Regions from separate parts of the Homo sapiens genome. Here region 2 is linked to region 1. The links come from fine-mapping of genetic effects on gene expression. A gene starts in region 1. The other region holds a variant in brackets. All regions are shown on one strand. Distances are between the middles of the regions. Region 1 holds the start of MRPL15 (mitochondrial ribosomal protein L15). Region 2 overlaps LOC124901947 (a long non-coding RNA gene).

What was found. PIP is the estimated chance that this variant, and not a neighbour inherited with it, causes the effect. A credible set is the group of variants that fine-mapping cannot tell apart.
Region 2: its variant is the best candidate, but not a certain one, in a credible set for the expression of MRPL15 in whole blood (INTERVAL, PIP 0.82).

The regions. Positions count from the first base shown.
Region 1 is chr8:54,133,373-54,137,767 of GRCh38, forward strand. It overlaps MRPL15 (mitochondrial ribosomal protein L15), which reads left to right and starts at 1,869. Exons shown (of 5, transcript NM_014175.4): 1 at 1,869-2,019; 2 at 3,139-3,293; 3 at 3,896-4,061. The coding sequence starts at 1,912.
Region 2 is chr8:53,488,097-53,492,491 of GRCh38, forward strand. All of the region lies in intron 1 of LOC124901947 (a long non-coding RNA gene), which reads left to right. Among named protein-coding and RNA genes, the nearest start is that of LINC02984, 34 kb to the right of the region's middle. The variant C/T (reference allele first, on the strand shown) is at 2,093.

The DNA of each region.
Region 1 (4,395 bases):
GTCTCTACTAAAAAACCAACCAAACAAACAAACTAAAAAAGCTGTACGTTGTGGTGCATGCCTGTAATCTCAGCTACTGGGGAGGCTGAGGCAGGAGAATCGCTTGAACCTGGGTGAGGAGCCTGCAGTGAGCCGAGATGGCGCTACTGCACTCCAGCCTGGGCGACAGAGTGAGATTCCATTTCAAACAAACAAACCAAAAATCATTAAAGGCAGAAAATAGGTTCTATTGCCCCCCACACCCCATTCTATTTCTTCTGTGCTTCTAAATAGAGTCTAGACTTTACCATCATATCATTTTATCGAACTCACATATTTTGTTTTTGCTAATTAGTCTACAAGAGGCCTACTTTTATCTTTAACTTTTAAAAAACATTCACGGGCCAGGCGCCGTGGCTCACGCCTGTAATCCCAGCACTTTGGGAGGCCGAGGCAGGGGGATCACCTGAGGCCAGGAGTTGGAGACCAGCCTGGCCAACATGGCGAAAACCCGTCTCTACTAAACATACAAAAAAAAATTAGCGGGGCGTGCTGGTGAACGCCTGTAATCCCAGCTACTCAGGAGGCGGAGGCGGAAGAATTGCTTGAACCAGAGAGGCAGAGGTTGCAGTGAGCTGAGATTGAACCATTGCACTCTAGCCTAAGCAACAGAGCGAGACTCTGTCTCAAAATAATAATAATAATAATTCACTTTTGGAAACTGTTCCCTACTAGATTTCAAACAACTTGGGAATGAAATCCTATTTGAGTTCATCCATGTGTATTTCCAACAAGTTCAGTGTCTTACTTATAAATAGTACTTGAAGGAATGAATACAACTTTTTCTTTATGTAGTTATTTTACACTTGATTTAAAGGAACTTTAAAAAGACGCAGTTATACCTAGAGACAGACGCCCTCCAAAAATTGTCTCACCTTCATTATTTGTGATTACTAGTTAGAGCTAGCAGAAAAAACTCCCCAGCAAGTGAAATGTCAAACCACTACTAAAAGAAAGAAAAAGAAAGGAACAGTCTTTTCTATATTTAAGTCACTTGAGAGAAAAAAGAAGAGCTGGTATTTTTCGAGTAATAATGTTCGTATTTTGTGATGCAGATACTCAATTTTACATTCTAAAAATACTACTTTTATAGTAGGAAGCAGTGTACGTTTGAATCCTGGCTCTGCCGCTTGTTGCAAGAAGTTGGTCAAGCTATCGGACCTTGCTAAGCCTTCCCTGTTGTAACTGTAAAATGTAGTAACACCATTTACCTCTAGAATGGCTGTAAATCGAGTAAGGCTTATTTAATACAGCGTCTGGCATACACCAGGCATTCAGTATGGCGCCAGTCATTAACAATAGGTGGTTACTAACTGCGATTCACTCAAAACAATACAGATGCACACGGATGAGAGTTCACACTTTGAGTCTTATTCAAAGATTGGTTATTAGCCAGGCATTTTGATAGGTGCACTCAGTTTTATTTTCGTACCTCACGGTGTATAATTACGCAAGCTCAAAAGCTAATAATTGACAGCTCACTTTGCTTTACTCTGGGTTCTGCATTGACCTCAGAGAAGACACGGCCTAGACAAACAGGCAAGGCCCAACACTGACTCAAAAAAGATCCTTTATTTAACGCAGTGTTTTTAGTGCATGCTCTCGTTTGGCGAAAGAGAAGGTTTTACGTTCAGAATATTAAAAGGGACCCCGAGGACAAAGCAGGATCTCGGAAAATAAGATCACATCCCCAAACAACTAAAAGGACAACCGAGACAAGGTTGCAGACTCCCACGCCTCTGCCCGACTCCCGGGCTTGCGCGCGCGGCTGCAGCGCGACAGGGGCGGGGCCACGGCCACAAAGCAGCCCCCGAGACCACGTGGCCTCCGAGCAGCTCAGGGCGCCCTTGAAAGTTCTTGGATCTGCGGGTTATGGCCGGTCCCTTGCAGGGCGGTGGGGCCCGGGCCCTGGACCTACTCCGGGGCCTGCCGCGTGTGAGCCTGGCCAACTTAAAGCCGAATCCCGGCTCCAAGAAACCGGTAAATGGGTGGTGGCGGTGCGGGGAAGCGCTGGGGACCCGGGCGATGAAAGCGGCCCTTCTCTCCCTGTCATTAGGAGAACTGCCCTTTCTAGGAGAGTGTTGGGATGAAAATAGGATTGCCTCATGCCTGTTCTCCCTTACTGCCCAGAGGGGAATCTTTCCACGTGCACCCAGTTCTTTTTTTTTTTTTTTTTTTTTTTTCCGAGACGGAGGCTTGCTCTGTCGCCCAGAAGCAATTCTCCTGCCTCAGCCTCCCGATTAGCTGGGATTACAGGCGCCCGCCATCACGCCCGGCTAATTTTTGTATTTTTAGTAGAGACGTGGTTTCACCGTGTTGGCCAGGCTGGTTTTGAACTCCTGAGCTCGCGATCCGCCTGCCTCGGCCTCCCAAAGTGCTGGGATTACAGGCGTGAGCCACCGCCCCCGGCCGCACCCAGTTCTTAATAAGGTTATGTTTACAAGTGTAAAGATACCAGGCGGAGAAGCCGACTCGCTGAAACTACAAAGTCTTTGTGTCATTCAAAATTGGATTTAAAATGAAATGTTTTCCCGGTGTATCTTTATGTTCATTGGAAAGATCTGAATTGCAGCTGTCCCTTCTGCAGTTGACTAAATAGAGCTAGAAAAGCTGTTAGTTGACAATGTACTGTCATTTTAACAGTCAGTTCATTGCTTTCGTGAAATGACAGGAAATTAAGGAAAAGATTTTCTTCAACAGATCAGTTTTCAAATAAAATTACAGGTTTATGAATAACATTTGCATATTTACAATTAATTTCAGAATAAATTCTTGCCTATCATTTAAAATGTTGTGAATATTTAATTCTAGGATTTTTTTCGGTTTCAACCTATTATAAAAACCTTATCCCCATCCTAACCTTTACTTTTTGCTTTTGAAACACACTTGGACTTTGGTTACAAGAATTAGCTATGTCTTTAGAGGCAAAGATGCTAACAGAGTGTGTGGAGCTTTGAGCAACTAGGACATGCTTGACACAATAGTGTTAGCTAGCACTGGTGGGCTGGATGAATGAACAGCATAACAAAAAGTGAAGAGCTGAAATGCAGTTTTTAGAAATGCATCTGAAATTCATAAAATTCTTTTTTTTCCTTGCAGGAGAGAAGACCAAGAGGTCGGAGAAGAGGTAGAAAATGTGGCAGAGGCCATAAAGGAGAAAGGCAAAGAGGAACCCGGCCCCGCTTGGGCTTTGAGGGAGGCCAGACTCCATTTTACATCCGAATCCCAAAATACGGGTTTAACGAAGGACATAGGTAAGGTTGCTTTGCTTTTTAAAGTACAGGTCCCCAATTTCCATTAAAAAGCACCTAAAAATAGTTTGGTAGAAATTTTGGTGGAAATTGTAAATTCACTTTGAAGCAAACTTTTGCTACTGTTCCCCTGAACCATTTTTTGGTAATGAAATCTTGCCTGGATTATTAAAAGGAAAAGAGGCCCAGACACTGCACTTAGACCTGCAAAATGGAGATTCTAATGCCAGCTCTAATGGTTATTAAAAGAGTGAGCAATAATAGACAGTATACATAAAAATCTGGCCCACTGTAGTCACCTAATAAATGATAACTACCATTATTACTTTGAGCTCCATAGTAAGTTAAATTTTCCACAGATTTATTTGTGTAAATAAGTGAAGTAAATGCTTAGAGAGGGAAATAATTTTTAGTGGAACAAAGGTGGTACAGGTTTGTTTTCATTACCCAAAATCAAGCAGTATTACATGTTTGTGTTACACTCAAGAGGGTTTTGTTTAGTTAAATAAAATTGGTGGAGGAAAACACAAGACAAAGCTTTGAGTTGATTTCGAGAAGTTACAGGAAGATGAGAGTTTTCCAACTCTTACATTCTTGTTTTACAGTTTCAGACGCCAGTATAAGCCTTTGAGTCTCAATAGACTGCAGTATCTTATTGATTTGGGTCGTGTTGATCCTAGTCAACCTATTGACTTAACCCAGCTTGTCAATGGGAGAGGTGTGACCATCCAGCCACTTAAAAGGGATTATGGTGTCCAGCTGGTTGAGGAGGTAAGTCTTGATTAGATCTTTTGGTGTTATATAGGAGGATTTTTTTTTTAGACAGAGTCTTGCCCTGTTGCCTGAGCTGGAGTACAGTGGCGCAATCTCGGCTCCTGCAACCTCCACCTCACAAGTTCAAGTGATTCTCCTGCCTCAGCCTCCTGAATAGCTGGGATTACAGGCACCCACCACCATGCCCAGCTAATTTTATTTGTTTTTAGTAGAGACAGGGTTTCACTATGTTGGCCAGGCTGATCTTGAACTCCTGACCTTAAGTGATCTGCTCACCTCGGCCTCCCAAAGTGCTGGAATTACAGGTGTGAGCCACCATGCCTGGCCCGTA
Region 2 (4,395 bases), 650 kb before region 1:
TATGTGCATGGGTCCCCACTAAGGACTCCCTTAGCCTAGGGGATAGAATGTAAGGCCTGTGTGCCAAACCTGTTTATCAAGCCTATGTGCCCCAAACTTATGTATAAAGCCCATGCCTGTGTATATTGAGTCTATGTACCCAAAGTTTATGCATATAACCTGTGTATCAAGCCCTACGTCTCCCTCAGCCCAGGGGGTGGAGTGTAAGGAACAAGGCTGTGCTTTGGTCAAGGGTAGGCCGAGGTAAACATCCAGAGTGACTCAATGAATTTAGAGCGCAGGTGTACAACTCCACTTGTTATCACAGCCATGTAGACTTAACATAGAGAAGCTCACCACCATAGCCATAACATAAGAAAGGCTCATCACCTGGCTCTAAGCCACTACTGTCTGTGAAAGGTATAATTGCCCTGTTGACACTCTATAGGTGCTGGCACCCAGAGAAAGAGAGAGTGAGTCAGAGCTGTCCATCTTTGCAGATGGACCAAGGGCAGCCAGAACATAGCTCAGCTCACTCATGCCCAGGGAGAGAAAGAGTTAAGCTGCTGACCCTGAAAGCAGGGGAGAGCCAGCTGCGCAGCTGTATGTGGGAGCCACTGGCTCAAGCAACCAAGACAGGGCAGACAGTGTGAGAAAGCTGTTGATGACAGTTGCTGCTGAATAAAATCATCTTTCACCTGTCTACGGGCCCTTGAGTTCTTTCTGCTCATCCACCCACTCCCTTCAGACCTCAACATGACATTTGGCATAGTCGTGAACCTGACAACTCTTCACATTCACTGTCACCCTTGCTTACCTCTCTCTCCATCCTCAAGCCTCTGCCATCTGGCTCCCACTCTCACCACTCCACTGAAACTTCTCTTTCTAAAGTCACCAATGACCTCATGTCCAAAACACATCACTTGACCATTTTCTAGTTTTAAAAACACTCTTTATTTTGTGCTTCTGTGATGCCACTCTCCAAATACTCAGCTCTTAACACATAGTAGTCTCTAGCACATAGTAGGGACTCAAAAATATATGTTGAATGAATGAATGAATAAAAGAATTGCTTCACTTATCTTTTTGCCACTCTCACTGTGCTGTAGATGCCTCTTTCTTGGTCCATCTCTTTGCCGCCTGTGGTTGCTCCTCAAGATGCAGTGACAGGCAATCTTCTCTTCTTATTTTACACTGTATACCTAGATGCCCTTACCCATTTGCAAGCCTTCATTTGTCCTCTGTGGGCAAACTCAAGACATCAAAACCTAAATCATGGAATGAATAGATGGATCCCAGAGGATTTTAAGAGCAGTGAAACTACTCTGCATGATACTACAAGGGTGGACACATGTTATTATAAACATAACCAAATCCATAGCATGTACAAAATCAAGACTGAACCCTAACATAAACCATAAACCTTGGGTGATGGTGATGTGTCAGTGTAAGTTCATGGATCGTAACAAATGCACTAGTCTGGTGGGGTATGTTGAGGGAAGGTGAGGCATGTGCAGAAACTAGAGATATACGGGAAAATTCCATATCTTATGCTCAATATTGCTATGAACCTAAAACTGCTCTAGAAAATCAAATCCATTGAAAAAAAAAACACTAAATCACCATCTTCCCCAATAAATACTAAAACCACTCACCAGGCTTCTTAGCCAGAAGCCTAGGAGCCACTCTCAATTGATATCATTCTTTCCACTAATAATGTTTCTACCAATAACACTGGTAGGAATGTTATTAAAGAAATCAATATTATTGGTAGAGAAGATACATGCATGTATTGGCCATCTACTAAAGTTTGTATAGTATAGACTAACTTCCCTAGGGAACTCCAGAAAGGTAAAACAAAAAGCAAGTGAAATTGCAAACTCCCACTGGAGCCAACTAGAAGAAAAAAAGTAAACTGGATTCAGATTGGAGACATTTCAGACACTGGCTGACTGGGCACAAAAGTGGCTTGTATGCCGCAGGATTAAAGATGAATCTTACATTAAGAGAGAAAAGGCATTTTGGCCTTTGTTATCAGGAGAAAACTCACTGCCCTCTGTGAGAGCTTCTCTAGGTAGAGGATGATGAACCCTTGCTAGATATGTTGCCTTTG[C/T]AATACTGGACAGAGCCTGGACACTGAATATAGACTAAAGTCTACAATGAGACCAACACAGATCCCTGCTAACAGGGATGTTGTGGAAAAGCAGGCTCTATAAAATTTTATATTAAGAGAAATGCAATGAATCAAAATGATGTTAGTAACTTTCACTAAAATATTGCATACTGACATTATATCTCTTGAAGCTATATTTCTCTGTCAATTTTTATGTTCTATATAATCTATGGCCAAATTGTATTGTTTAAAATGGAAAAAAAAAACATATATGTTCCGCCTTCTTAACTGCCAGCTTCTTATATAAGACATTTATTTTTCAGGAAAAAAAATCTCAAATGTGCTCTAGCAGTTACCTAGGAGACAAGAAAGGACAGGACATGATTTGGACATATCTGAGACTCTAACCCCCAAAATTCTAACATTTCATACCTAAATAATTAGATGATGTATGCTATATCCTTTCTCTAAGTTCATTTCACATTTAAGAATCAGGTGTTTATTAAGATTTTAGAAGCTTCTGATCACCTTGTTTGGGTAGATTTAAAAAAATAAAATGAAAAAAGTGTCAGTGGCCTCTTAATAAATTAACTGACAAAAAATAAAGCAGGAAAATACTACACAAAACAAAATGTTAATATCTTCACCGGGATTGAATAAGATTTCATTAGAAATCCACTTTACATATTCTTTACCTTCAAAGGTCATCCTATTGAATTCAAAAATTCTCTTGAAGTATCTTTTCCAGTCCTAACTCGATAGAGAAAGAAATGCAATCCCTGTGTAATGGTAGAACATAAACCTCAAAGACTCCCTTCGCTTTTTTCTAAGTAACATGGACTGGCAAGTACAAGAATGGACTAAGAACAACAGGAGTTGAAGTATCCTAATTATCTGGGGGGTGTAGGTCGACCTAAACACACCTGTGCTCTTCTTCTCATCTAACCTTACCTAAGTCACTTACATGAGGACAGAAAATGAAGCCAAGTCATCACACTTCTCAAAGAATCCAAGAAGAATTATTGGAAAGGAACACCAACAGACCACCAAATCTAGTTTCTACTATCCGGCCACTACAGGACATGACCAGGGAGTCTCTCTTTTTAGAATTCTCCAGAGAGAAATACCCATCAATTTCCCTCGGAAACTTTCAGTTTCCTGAGTCACATATAACAAATTATGACACAGGTAGGAGCTTAAAACAACAGACATTTATTCTCATAGTTTTTGAGGCCAGAAACCCAAAACCCAGATGTCATCAGGACCATACTCCCTCTGGGGGCTCTGCAGAAAAATTCCTTGTCAAGCTTCCATAGTGGTGGACACAACACTCCAATCTCTGGCTCCTGCTCACGCTGCCTCCTTTGCCTCCGTGCATGTCATCTCCCTCTGCATCTCTCACAGATGCTTGTGATTGGATTTAGGGTCCCCCAAATAATCTAGGATAATCTCCCCATCTCAAGATTCTTAATCACATCTGCAAAGACCCTTTCTGCCATATAAGGTAATACACACAGATTCCAGGAATTTGAATGTGGATATCTTTTAGGAGGAATGATTATTCAGCCTACCACAGAAACCCATGAAGTTTGTTACACTCAACCCATATAAACTTTTGGATGAGTTTGAGACAACCTGATTTAGTAGTTGGGTGGTTTATTTATTCATTCAGTTAACTGATATCTAGCCTGCACTAACTGCGCCAGATATGCTAAGCCTGGGAATACAGCTGTGCAACAGACAAACATGGTCGTGGTTTGCAGAAAATGAATTTGAACTCAAACACTTGCAATGTCATGGAAGTTGCAAATGGCAGATCCATGGTGAAGGGTCTATTTATAATTGGGAAATGAAGTAATGTGGCTTTTTTTTAAATAATATGTCATATTACTTCATTTCCCAATGAAGTAATCCCCATTTTCCCAATTAAAAATTCCACTGCTATTGAGAATGCCCAGAGGAAGGACTGGAAATGCCCAAGCAAGACAGGTAGGCAAAGAGCTCCCATGCAATGTCAAAGGTACATACATACAACCCAAGCTGGATTTCTTTCTGTCATTCCACCCCATATCTCACTAGAATATCATGCAGGGGAGAAGCTTAGGGCTAGGAGCTAGAAAAAACTGTCAGGGTCTCTCATCTTGCAGGCATCAGATCCTCTGCCTCATAGCCTGTATTTTGATAGGTTTCATTATTTTTTTCAGGTGTGGTGAAGCCAACAGATCAGGGGACAACTACCATTGAAAAGATTGTGCATTAAACTCACAGATCCCAAGAGAGGGAACGTGCATCACACCACAGGG